Regions from separate parts of the Homo sapiens genome. Here region 1 is linked to region 2. Evidence: fine-mapped expression QTL. A gene starts in region 2. The other region holds a variant in brackets. All regions are shown on one strand. Distances are from middle to middle.

Region 1 (5,374 bases), 120 kb after region 2:
AGGCCATTACATAATGGTAAAGGGATCAATTCAACAAGAGGAGCTAACTATCCTAAATATTTATGCACCCAATACAGGAGCACCCAGATTCATAAAGCAAGTCCTGAGTGACCTACAAAGAGACTTAGACGCCCACACATTAATAATGGGAGACTTTAACACCCCACTGTCAACATTAGACAGATCAACGAGACAGAAAGTCAACAAGGATACCCAGGAATTGAACTCAGCTCTGCACCAAGCAGACCTAATAGACATCTACAGAACTCTCCACCCCAAATCAACAGAGTATACATTTTTTTCAGCACCACACCACACCTATTCCAAAATTGACCACATAGTTGGAAGTAAAGCTCTCCTCAGCAAATGTAAAAGAACAGAAATTATAACAAACTATCTCTCAGACCACAGTGCAATCAAACTAGAACTCAGGATTAAGAATCTCACTCAAAGCCACTCAACTCCATGGAAACTGAACAACCTGCTCCTGAATGACTACTGGGTACATAACGAAATGAAGGCAGAAATAAAGATGTTCTTTGAAACCAACGAGAACAAAGACACCACATACCAGAATCTCTGGGACGCATTCAAAGCAGTGTGTAGAGGGAAATTTATAGCACTAAATGCCTACAAGAGAAAGCAGGAAAGATCCAAAATTGACACCCTAACATCACAATTAAAAGAACTAGAAAAGCAAGAGCAAACACATTCAAAAGCTAGCAGAAGGCAAGAAATAACTAAAATCAGAGCAGAACTGAAGGAAATAGAGACACAAAAAACCCTTCAAAAAATCAATGAATCCAGGAGCTGGTTTTTTGAAAGGATCAACAAAATTGATAGACCGCTAGCAAGACTAATAAAGAAAAAAAGAGAGAAGAATCAAATAGACACAATAAAAAATGATAAAGGGGATATCACCACCGATCCCACAGAAATACAAACTACCATCAGAGAATACTACAAACACCTCTACGCAAATAAACTAGAAAATCTAGAAGAAATGGATACATTCCTCGACACATACACTCTCCCAAGACTAAACCAGGAAGAAGTTGAATCTCTGAATAGACCAATAACAGGCTCTGAAATTGTGGCAATAATCAATAGTTTACCAACCAAAAAGAGTCCAGGACCAGATGGATTCACAGCCGAATTCTACCAGAGGTACAAGGAGGAGCTGGTACCATTCCTTCTGAAACTATTCCAATCAATAGAAAAAGAGGGAATCCTCCCTAACTCATTTTATGAGGCCAGCATCATTCTGATACCAAAGCCGGGCAGAGACACAACCAAAAAAGAGAATTTTAGACCAATATCCTTGATGAACATTGATGCAAAAATCCTCAATAAAATACTGGCAAACCGAATCCAGCAGCACATCAAAAAGCTTATCCACCATGATCAAGTGGGCTTCATCCCTGGGATGCAAGGCTGGTTCAATATACGCAAATCAATAAATGTAATCCAGCATATAAACAGAGCCAAAGACAAAAACCACATGATTATCTCAATAGATGCAGAAAAAGCCTTTGACAAAATTCAACAACCCTTCATGCTAAAAACTCTCAATAAATTAGGTATTGATGGGACGTATTTCAAAATAATAAGAGCTATCTATGACAAACCCACAGCCAATATCATACTGAATGGGCAAAAACTGGAAGCATTCCCTTTGAAAACTAACTCTTAAGATACTTGTAGAATGTGTGATCACAGTGCTCTCCCTGTTACCATAGGACACCTTCCCTATTGCAATAGTGCCTTTACTCCTTTTGCAATAATTATTTTGAATGAAGTCTCTTCTTACTAACTCTGGATTTGCTTTTATTTGACAATAGCATATGGTGAGTTTGTGACCAGAGGCAAACGGCCAAGGCCAATGACTCCAGCTGTGAATGCCAGTAGGATGCCCCAAGGCCCAGATGGGGCCCTCTGCACCCCAGGGACAAGACCAGACAAATTGCTCCATGGTATGTAGGCCAGTGGGGATCAGAGGATGATGGTTAGATTTGGAGCTCCTTTGCCACAGATAAGGGGTCTCATCATGCCCTCCTTCAGCCAGTTGATATTTTGGAGAACTGGGGCTGCAGTGCTCCCAAGGACTGACAACTCAGAAGAAATAAACTGTTTCTTCCAGCTTAAAAGTCTTTTTTGAATGTAATATTGTTACAGAAAAGTATGTGTGTGTGTGTGTGTGTGTGTGTGTGTGTGTCTGTTACCAGCAAGGACTTATGAAGCTTATGAGGGTGACTAACTCTGTTAAAAAAAAATAGACAAAAGCCACATTTTCTTAGTGCAGTTGACAGTAGTGTGTGCAAATTTGCCACCAGCTATACTAGAATTACGAATCAAAGAAAACAAGATGATATTTCACAGCAATAAATGTGAAATCTTGCCTTTGGGTTCAAAAACATGTAAGTACAGGATG[T/C]GAATATTTGGTTTAGGAACAGCACGGCAATACTCAGGAAGAAAAAATTAGTGGTTGTATTAGTCAGGAATTTTTTGGTTGCCACTTACAAAAATCCAACTGGGATTAGGCAAAAGGGCAAAAAGGGAATTTATTGACTCTCAGAATCCAAGAACAACCAGACTGAGGGAAGGGCAGGGAAGGCTGCTAGGTTTCAGGGATAAATGGGCAAGGGACACAAAAGCCCTGGGTTCTCTCCGTTTCTTGACTGGGCTGGCCTCTCTTTGGGTGGCATTCTCTCTTCTGTGTTTTATTCTCTCTTGCTACAGTCTATCTTTCTGCACAGGGCAGGATTATGGCCCTTAAACGCTTCTGAAGATCATCCCTTCTAACTTTTGCTAGTGGACTTGGAAGAGGCTGGCTCTTTCAGATGCAGCCAGACAAGACCTGAGGAAGAATTCTGATGGGAAACCTGGTAAGGGCTCTCTTTGCAGCCGGGGAGACAGAATCATGTCAAAAAGTGGCAGTTCTCAAGATAGCCATTTAAACATGCTTACAGGGAGGGAGGAAGAGAGAGGGTTGTTTGAAATTTTCAAGAAGTAAAAGGAATTTCTGGATAAATAACTCCATAAGCTCCAAGTATGAGTGGGTAGTCATTGTTAATATGAAGGCAGATGCAGGCTGTGTTTTGCAGAGACACTGGTACAGTGGAGGATACATCCGTGTACATAAAGATTAGGGTGCATCAGGTAGTGCACCTGGGGTTGGGCTTTTGTTTTGGGGGTCATGTTTAGAGGAGATGATAGACCAAATGGAGGTTGTTGTGAGGAAAGCAACTAGACTGGTGGGATAATTCAAACCATTCTATATTATTGCTAATGCTGCTATCTTGGGGAAATCCTCAAAGAACCAGGGACATTTAGACTGGAGAGGAGAAGGTCTGGGGACATAGTAGCTGTCATCAGCAGCTTGTATTCTTTATGAATTTATGAATTAGCATATAGGAGCCTCAGAGCCACAGAATTTTTTATTAGGGAAACCGCTAATAAAACCATCAGATCTCATGAAACTTATTCACTACCATGAGAACAGTATGGGGGAAACTGCCCCCATGATTAAATTATCTCCCACTGGGTCCCTCCCACAGCTCCTGGGAATTATGGGCTACAACTCAAGATGAGATTTGTGTGGGGACACAGCCAAACCATATTAGGATGGTGCTGTTGGAAGGGCTGGCAGAGCTGGGACCTTCTTAGGAAAACGTGATCAAGGTGGAGAAGAAGGGGAAGAGCCTTCCCTGAGTGAGGGAGTGCAGTAAAGGGGAAGAGGTGGCCCAGGTACAGCCTCCTGCTCCTGGTTGCAGCCCTGCAGACCTCACTGTGCTCTGGTGGTGTCCCTTCCATTTCCATGCTTTGATTTCCATTCCTGCCCCAGATATGTGCAGGATTGGAGAGGGCAGCAAGGGACCCCTGGGGGGACTGAGGATGCCTTCAGCCTGGGTTCTCCCCACCTATGTATGGGGACGGGGCAAAGCCCCAGAATCACTGAGGCAACCTATCCTCTTCCTCAGGAACCCTTTACTTGCTCCTGCCTCAGAGCTTCCTGTTCTCATTTCCAGCCCTTCCCTCATCCAACCTGACTTTCTTTCTTTACTGTATATGAGGTGATATTTGTGATGTGAGGTGCAATGTGATCTTCTCCACTTCATAGAGGTATAAATGATGGGCCAGGTGTAATCTGTTACTCATTCAGGGTTCACTTACATTTTAATAAAAGATAACTTTTTTTAACCACAGCAAAGACATCCTCAATGGTAAATTTTAGCCATCTTCAATAAAAAAGGGAGGACTTAGAGAATTTGTGAGAAGGATTCACTTCTGTATCCCCCACCCTCAAGAGTGTTTTTCACATGGTGAGTTGTGTCTTAAGAAATCAATTTTGTGTTTCACAACTAGCATTTTTTAAATAACAAAATACAATTGAATGGAATGAAATAGAACAGACAAAAATATTGAGTTTACAACATATAGCAAGAGTAAGTTATGTTTCATAAAACGTATTTCAGGTAAACATGTGTGTGTGCAACATCATACATGTCATGTTGTAAAATATATTTTTACTGTCAGTTGTAGCCCAAACAAAAGTTTGAAAAATATTGTCTTAAGTTTACCCTCTGGAAAAGTACAATTTGACTTTGATCTGAATGAGTTGGTCTTATTAAAGAATCAAGATGGTGTTGGCTAGACTAGCTTTTGCCTTGTGGTGGGTTCTAAGAATATTTTTATTTTTTCTATGTCCCATATCAGATGAGTGGGAGTCTCTCAGTTTTTCAAGTCCTCTCAGGAAGCAAAACAAAATGAAGTAATAACAATTGCTTCCTACTTACCTAAGCAAATGCTTTTTGCTTGTGATTTCCCCAGGACTGTTACAGGAGATGAAGACTTGATCAGTGTTTCTAAGTACCTTTGAGGATTAGAGTAATCAGTAATGCATATCTGTCATCCATAAAAGCAAATGTGTACTTCCTACTGGACTTTTCCATTTGCTGAAGTCAGGAGAACCAACATGGCTTGTTTGAATTAAATAAGGTCACTGTTCGAAGAATCAATCTTGAGGAAGAGAAGTAAGAGCCAGTAGTAGTATTGCAAAGCATAACCCTGTTCCCAAAGACACGCTGAGCCCTGGAGACTAGGGCATGAGGCAAAGGAGCTGAAGAACGCTCAAAACTGTTCTCAATGATTATTCCATTTTGGGGCAAATGTACATGAAAATGGTAGTACCAGAGAAACAGCTATATGCCAGAAAGCCTGAGCTCTGAAGAGAGGCATGGAGAACTCAATTTCACTAAGTCCAGAGGATGACTAAAAATGCCAAGATAGGCTCAAGGTGAAATAGATCCCACTGGAAGTTCAGAAGGACAGTTTTGAGGGTTTCTACCCCAGGGAAACCACTTAGAATTGTAAA
Region 2 (5,374 bases):
ACTTACATTACTTGGTGGGTCTTCCCATAATCTTGTGACTCTTTTCATTTGAAAAGGTTTTTTAAAAACCCTAATTGTTGCTCACTGGAATTCTTAAGGGGTGTTTTGAGCTTCAGCAAAAGCATAACACTGGCTTTTTTTTTTTTTTTAATTCGTTCCGCTGCTTGGTTTGGGGTCTCTTCCCTTCCGCAGCTTGGTCTTGTTGCTGCTCTTGAGTGTGACAAACTGCAAGTCGAGAGCTCTTGTCCAAAAGCTGCGGAGAGGCTACGGGCACTCACCCTTACTTAAGCGCACTGCCCTGCTGTTGAACTGCAGGCGAGGCTAGGTAGCATCTGGGATGGGACAGGCGTTCACACCGGTGCCACTGAAACCCCAGACTCTCCGCATAAACCCACACCACACGCGGCAGAATCATATCGCCATTGGCTGGTGTTCCGCAGACACAGGGCATACCGCAGAGTAATAGGAAACACTGGTTCCTACCACTGTGGCCAGTGGTAGGACTGGGTCTCCGAGGCAGGACCTTTCTTGGAGTCTCGGAACCCCAGCACAGTGCCTGGCAACCAGTTTCGAAATCCATTAAGACCCTTGGAATTCATGATTTAGTTCTTGTTTTGTTGTTGTTCTTTTTCTTTTTTTTTTTTTTTAATCTGTGCTGCCATAAACGCCTGCCCTTCTGCAAATTCAGGAAAGATTTAATTGCTGTGGAGCACTAAATCTCAATTTCCAGTGTGTGTGGATTACCCTGTTTGTGGAATTAAATTTTATACAGATGTCTCTTTTGCTCCTGGTTAGTGGCTCTAATTAAATAAATGGAAATTCTCGCAGGAATTAGAAGCTCCTACTTAACAGTGAAGATTTCGGGATCACAGTGCATAATCTGAATATAAATGACCCAGAAGCTGAAACATTACCCATAATCACATTGACGGTTCCAGAAAGAGCGATAAGGAGAGTGCTGTTAAGGGAGGCGAGCGCTGACGCCAGAAGTTGCCATATCCCCAGAAACCCCAGTTTGCCTTTTCACCGTCGCAAGTGAGAACCAGAGCGCGTTAAAGGCCTCGGAGTAAAAAACGCAGCGTCTGGGACTGCGGCACCCGGGTTGAGTCGGGTGCAAGTTTCTGCCGAAAGAGGGCGTCGGTCTGAGACTAAAAGAAATTTGTGGACACGGACGCCTAGTCAAATGAAAGACCATTTTAACACATTTTCAATGTATTTAAATGTGCGGGACTTAATTGTCAGAATTCTCCCGCCCAGTGTAGCCCGTTCACATTGCAAATGACTTGGCTGCAGTAGGCACAGAAGGTCCAGTTCCATTTTGACCCGCCCCGCCGCGCGGCGGACTCCCGCGATGCTCCTCTGGTCACGGACTTCTCCAGAGCCGCTTCCCTCCGGTCTCCACCGCTGCTGTGGCTATGGCCAGTGGGAGGACTGGGTCTCCGAGGCAGGACCTTTCTTGGAGTCGCGGAACCCCAGCACAGTGCCTCGAGCGCTCCAGAGAAGGAGCGGTTGGATCTTTGAGCACTCAGGTTGGAGGGGAGCGTGTGTCGTACCCGGGGGACCTACCGGGAACGTTTTGGGAAAGACAGTCCCTTTATTTAGGTACCTGGTTTAGCAAACAAAGCCCCGAGGACGCTTTGGGGATGCTTTCCAAGCTTTGTGACACCTCCAGAAGTTGAACCATTCCCTCGCCTTTGGGAGCAACAAGTTTCACTTTCCTGCTCTCAGTGCGCTGACAGAGGGTCCGTGAGCTGGGACACTGTGACCTCGGCACCGCTGCGATTCCAGCGCAAACCTGCGTGGCCCAGGGGGAGGGGGCTGGCGCGGGGCTGAGGAAGGCGGGGTGTAGGTGACGCCCGGGCCAGCCGGGCACACCAGGTCCGCGATGGAGCCATCTGCACTGGGACCTTGGTCCTTGTTCCCTGACCTTGCGCCGAGGGACCAGGAAGGTCAGGTGCTCGCCCCGCGTCGGTGCTTCAGGAGGGAATGTGGCCAGAACGAGAAAGGTGAGAGCAAGCGGCACCTAAGGATTTTTGCACCGAAACCACAATTTCTAGAACCATCCCTTTCCCCCAGTCCTGGTTTTTTTTTTTTTTTGCACGGTGTGTGTGTGTATATGTGTGTGTGTGTGTGTGTGTGTATGTGTGCGTGCGCGCGCGCATTTCTCTACTTTAAAGCACGTTTCCTTTTTTGAAGCCAGGAGCTGGAGAGCGTGGAAAGGGAGAGGCGGTGATCGCACAGGCACGCGGCGTGGTGGGGGCTCTTGCCGGTGCAGACGTGGGCGATTTCAGCTTTAAGGAAAAGGCAGAGGGCCTGCGGGGAGTGGTGGTTAGGGACAGGGGCGCGATGGGTAGTGAAGGGGTGCAGGGAGGAGCCCTGATGTAAGAATGTTAATGAGAGACTCCCCCAGCCCAGCCCCCACATCTCCCCACCCCCACCCACCCCACCCGCTGGAAACACAAGCCCGGCCTCGGCGCGCCATGTGTGGTAACACGCTCAGCCGCTGCCACGCTATTTAAACGCGGGCTATGGATCCAGGAACCGGCGCGAATCAATGAGATCAAATGCGAGGGAGATGCACCGTCAATTACAAACACTTGGACAAGTCTAACTTTTTTTTTCTTCTACAAAAACGCTTTCAAAAGCAACCTTAGCAACGCCCAAATAAGAAGCCACCTCTAAGCAAAATAGTATATGTATAAACGGAGGGCGAATATATACAAGTATATATATATGTATATTACAGACGCACAGGTTTACACCCGGTGAACTTTTTCTTTTTCTTTTTCTTTTTTTTTTAAGAAAAACTAGTGACATTGCAGAGAAGGACGCTTCCTCTCTATCTTTTGGCGCATTAGTGAAGGGGGTATTCTATTTTGTTAAAGCGCCCAAGGGGGCGCAGGGACCTTGGAGAGAAGAGTGGGGAGGAAAGAGGAAGGGTGGGTGGGGGGCAGAGGGCGAGTCGGCGGCGGCGAGGGCAAGCTCTTTCTTGCGGCACGATGCCGTCTCTGCTGGTGCTCACTTTCTCCCCGTGCGTACTACTCGGCTGGGCGTTGCTGGCCGGCGGCACCGGTGGCGGTGGCGTTGGCGGCGGCGGCGGTGGCGCGGGCATAGGCGGCGGACGCCAGGAGAGAGAGGCGCTGCCGCCACAGAAGATCGAGGTGCTGGTGTTACTGCCCCAGGATGACTCGTACTTGTTTTCACTCACCCGGGTGCGGCCGGCCATCGAGTATGCTCTGCGCAGCGTGGAGGGCAACGGGACTGGGAGGCGGCTTCTGCCGCCGGGCACTCGCTTCCAGGTGGCTTACGAGGATTCAGACTGTGGGAACCGTGCGCTCTTCAGCTTGGTGGACCGCGTGGCGGCGGCGCGGGGCGCCAAGCCAGACCTTATCCTGGGGCCAGTGTGCGAGTATGCAGCAGCGCCAGTGGCCCGGCTTGCATCGCACTGGGACCTGCCCATGCTGTCGGCTGGGGCGCTGGCCGCTGGCTTCCAGCACAAGGACTCTGAGTACTCGCACCTCACGCGCGTGGCGCCCGCCTACGCCAAGATGGGCGAGATGATGCTCGCCCTGTTCCGCCACCACCACTGGAGCCGCGCTGCACTGGTCTACAGCGACGACAAGCTGGAGCGGAACTGCTACTTCACCCTCGAGGGGGTCCACGAGGTCTTCCAGGAGGAGGGTTTGCACACGTCCATCTACAGTTTCGACGAGACCAAAGACTTGGATCTGGAAGACATCGTGCGCAATATCCAGGCCAGTGAGAGAGGTGAGCAGGGGCGCGTCCCGGGCCCCGGGCCCTAACCCAACCGCTCTCCGCGGCTCTCCCTGCACACTCGTCCACTCTGCAGACCCCACTCCCCACTGCGGCGCTGAGGTCGGGTGCGCGCGGGCACTCGTTCAGGTATGCGCCGTGTGGCTGCGACAACCTTTGACGACCGCCCATCGCGGTGTACGTAGAGGGTCCCAGGGAGGTGAAGGGGTTGGAGGAGAGGGCGTCTGTAGCTCCTGCGTGCCCAGGTCCAACAGGTGCTGTCAAACACTTCGATGTTTTTTCTTCCCAGTTTCCACTTTGCCAGCGCCGGGCTGGTGATTAGGGGGCGCACTCCCAGTGCCTGGCTCCATCCAGGGTCTGAAGCATCCGAGGCGGAAAGAACTTGTTCCCCAGTCCTTTGCCAGCGTGCGCCCCCACTTAGTGCGGAAGCGTCCGCGGACGCCTCGCAGCGAGGCGTCGCCACTTAGCTCGCCCGCTCTTGGGGTTTCTCTGACTGTTGTTTCCACAGACCCCAGGTTTCTTTTAAAGGCTTGTTGACTCACTCTTCTCATTCCTTTCATTTCCCTTCCAGCCCCTTATAAACGAGCTTCTGTGGTTTCCACCAAAAATGCCCCTGTGTGTCTGAATTCTGGCGACACTCACTTCTCCCAGAGTGTTCTGCAACGCAGTTTCTAATGCGCCCAGAGCTAAGCTTTGCGGGAGTGCCTTTTGAAGAAACGAGCGCTGAACCTTCTTTCCACCTGTCCCCCAAGTTTTCTCCATGGGTCTTTGGGTGTTGGAATAAAACCCAAACTGGACAAAGAGCTCGAGGCTGAGGATGGTGGCTATGGCTTCGGGGAGCGGGGGGACGCGGACGTGTAATCGCCAGTGTGGCCCATTTTACGGTAGGGTAGAATCTGAGGGAAGGCGGACTGAGATGCCGGTATAGCGCCGATCCCTCCTCCCTCTAGTCAGGGATTAGGAGCACTGCGATGAGGGAATCCCGTCTCTGCTCCCCCTTGGCGCTCACGCGCCTGGAATGTGAGTGGTGCAATCCCGGCAAAGCTCCCCGAGACCCCAGTGCCACGCGGATGAGACCGAAGGGGAGCGGAGTTGAGCCAGGCGCCGGGCTAGTCCACAACTTGGCATGGCCGAGCACCTGGGCGCTGGTCGTAGGGGACAGCGCAACCTGAGGCCGAAGGCCCCAGGAACAGGTGAGAGTGGACAGAGAAGCCATCGATAATGGCGCTGCTGTCACCGCCTTGCCATCTTGGCCACCTCGGACTCACCCTTTAGAGCAAAGAGGCGAGAGGTGTTTGACAGTGGGAATGCATGGCCAAATTTTGAGCTCTGGAACTCCAGGCTGTCTGTGCCGAATTCCTACCAGCCAAGCAGGCGGGGCGCAGGCTTTGCCGATTATGAAAAAGGGCACGTGTGTCCAACGGCTGCGGACTTGCCACGCCTGCCACGCCTCGGCAAGGAACCCACATCTACACTCCCAAGTCCCAGTCGCCAGGTTACTGCAGCCTCCACGGGGGTGTCTGCGCCCCGGGCTGCTAAGGCTCCCGGAACCTGCTTCTCCAGTTCTCGGCTTTCGAGGGCTAGGCGCTAGAAGTCAGAG

Direction of the effects. Positions count from the first base shown, and alleles are read on the strand shown. Sizes are in standard deviations (SD) of each study's normalised expression.
As copies of T replace C in region 1, the expression in fibroblasts of the gene that starts at base 2,544 in region 2 goes up (small effect, 0.15 SD a copy in GTEx).

What was found. PIP is the estimated chance that this variant, and not a neighbour inherited with it, causes the effect.
Region 1: its variant is the best candidate, but not a certain one, in a credible set for the expression of NPR3 in fibroblasts (GTEx, PIP 0.88).

What each region holds. Positions count from the first base shown.
Region 1 is chr5:32,826,309-32,831,682 of GRCh38, forward strand. No RefSeq gene overlaps it. Among named protein-coding and RNA genes, the nearest start is that of NPR3, 120 kb to the left of the region's middle. The variant T/C (reference allele first, on the strand shown) is at 2,432.
Region 2 is chr5:32,708,778-32,714,151 of GRCh38, forward strand. NPR3 (natriuretic peptide receptor 3) reads left to right here and starts at 2,544. Exons shown (of 8, transcript NM_001204375.2): 1 at 2,544-3,768. The coding sequence starts at 3,000. RefSeq lists an enhancer at 2,905-3,630 and a silencer at 3,506-3,800.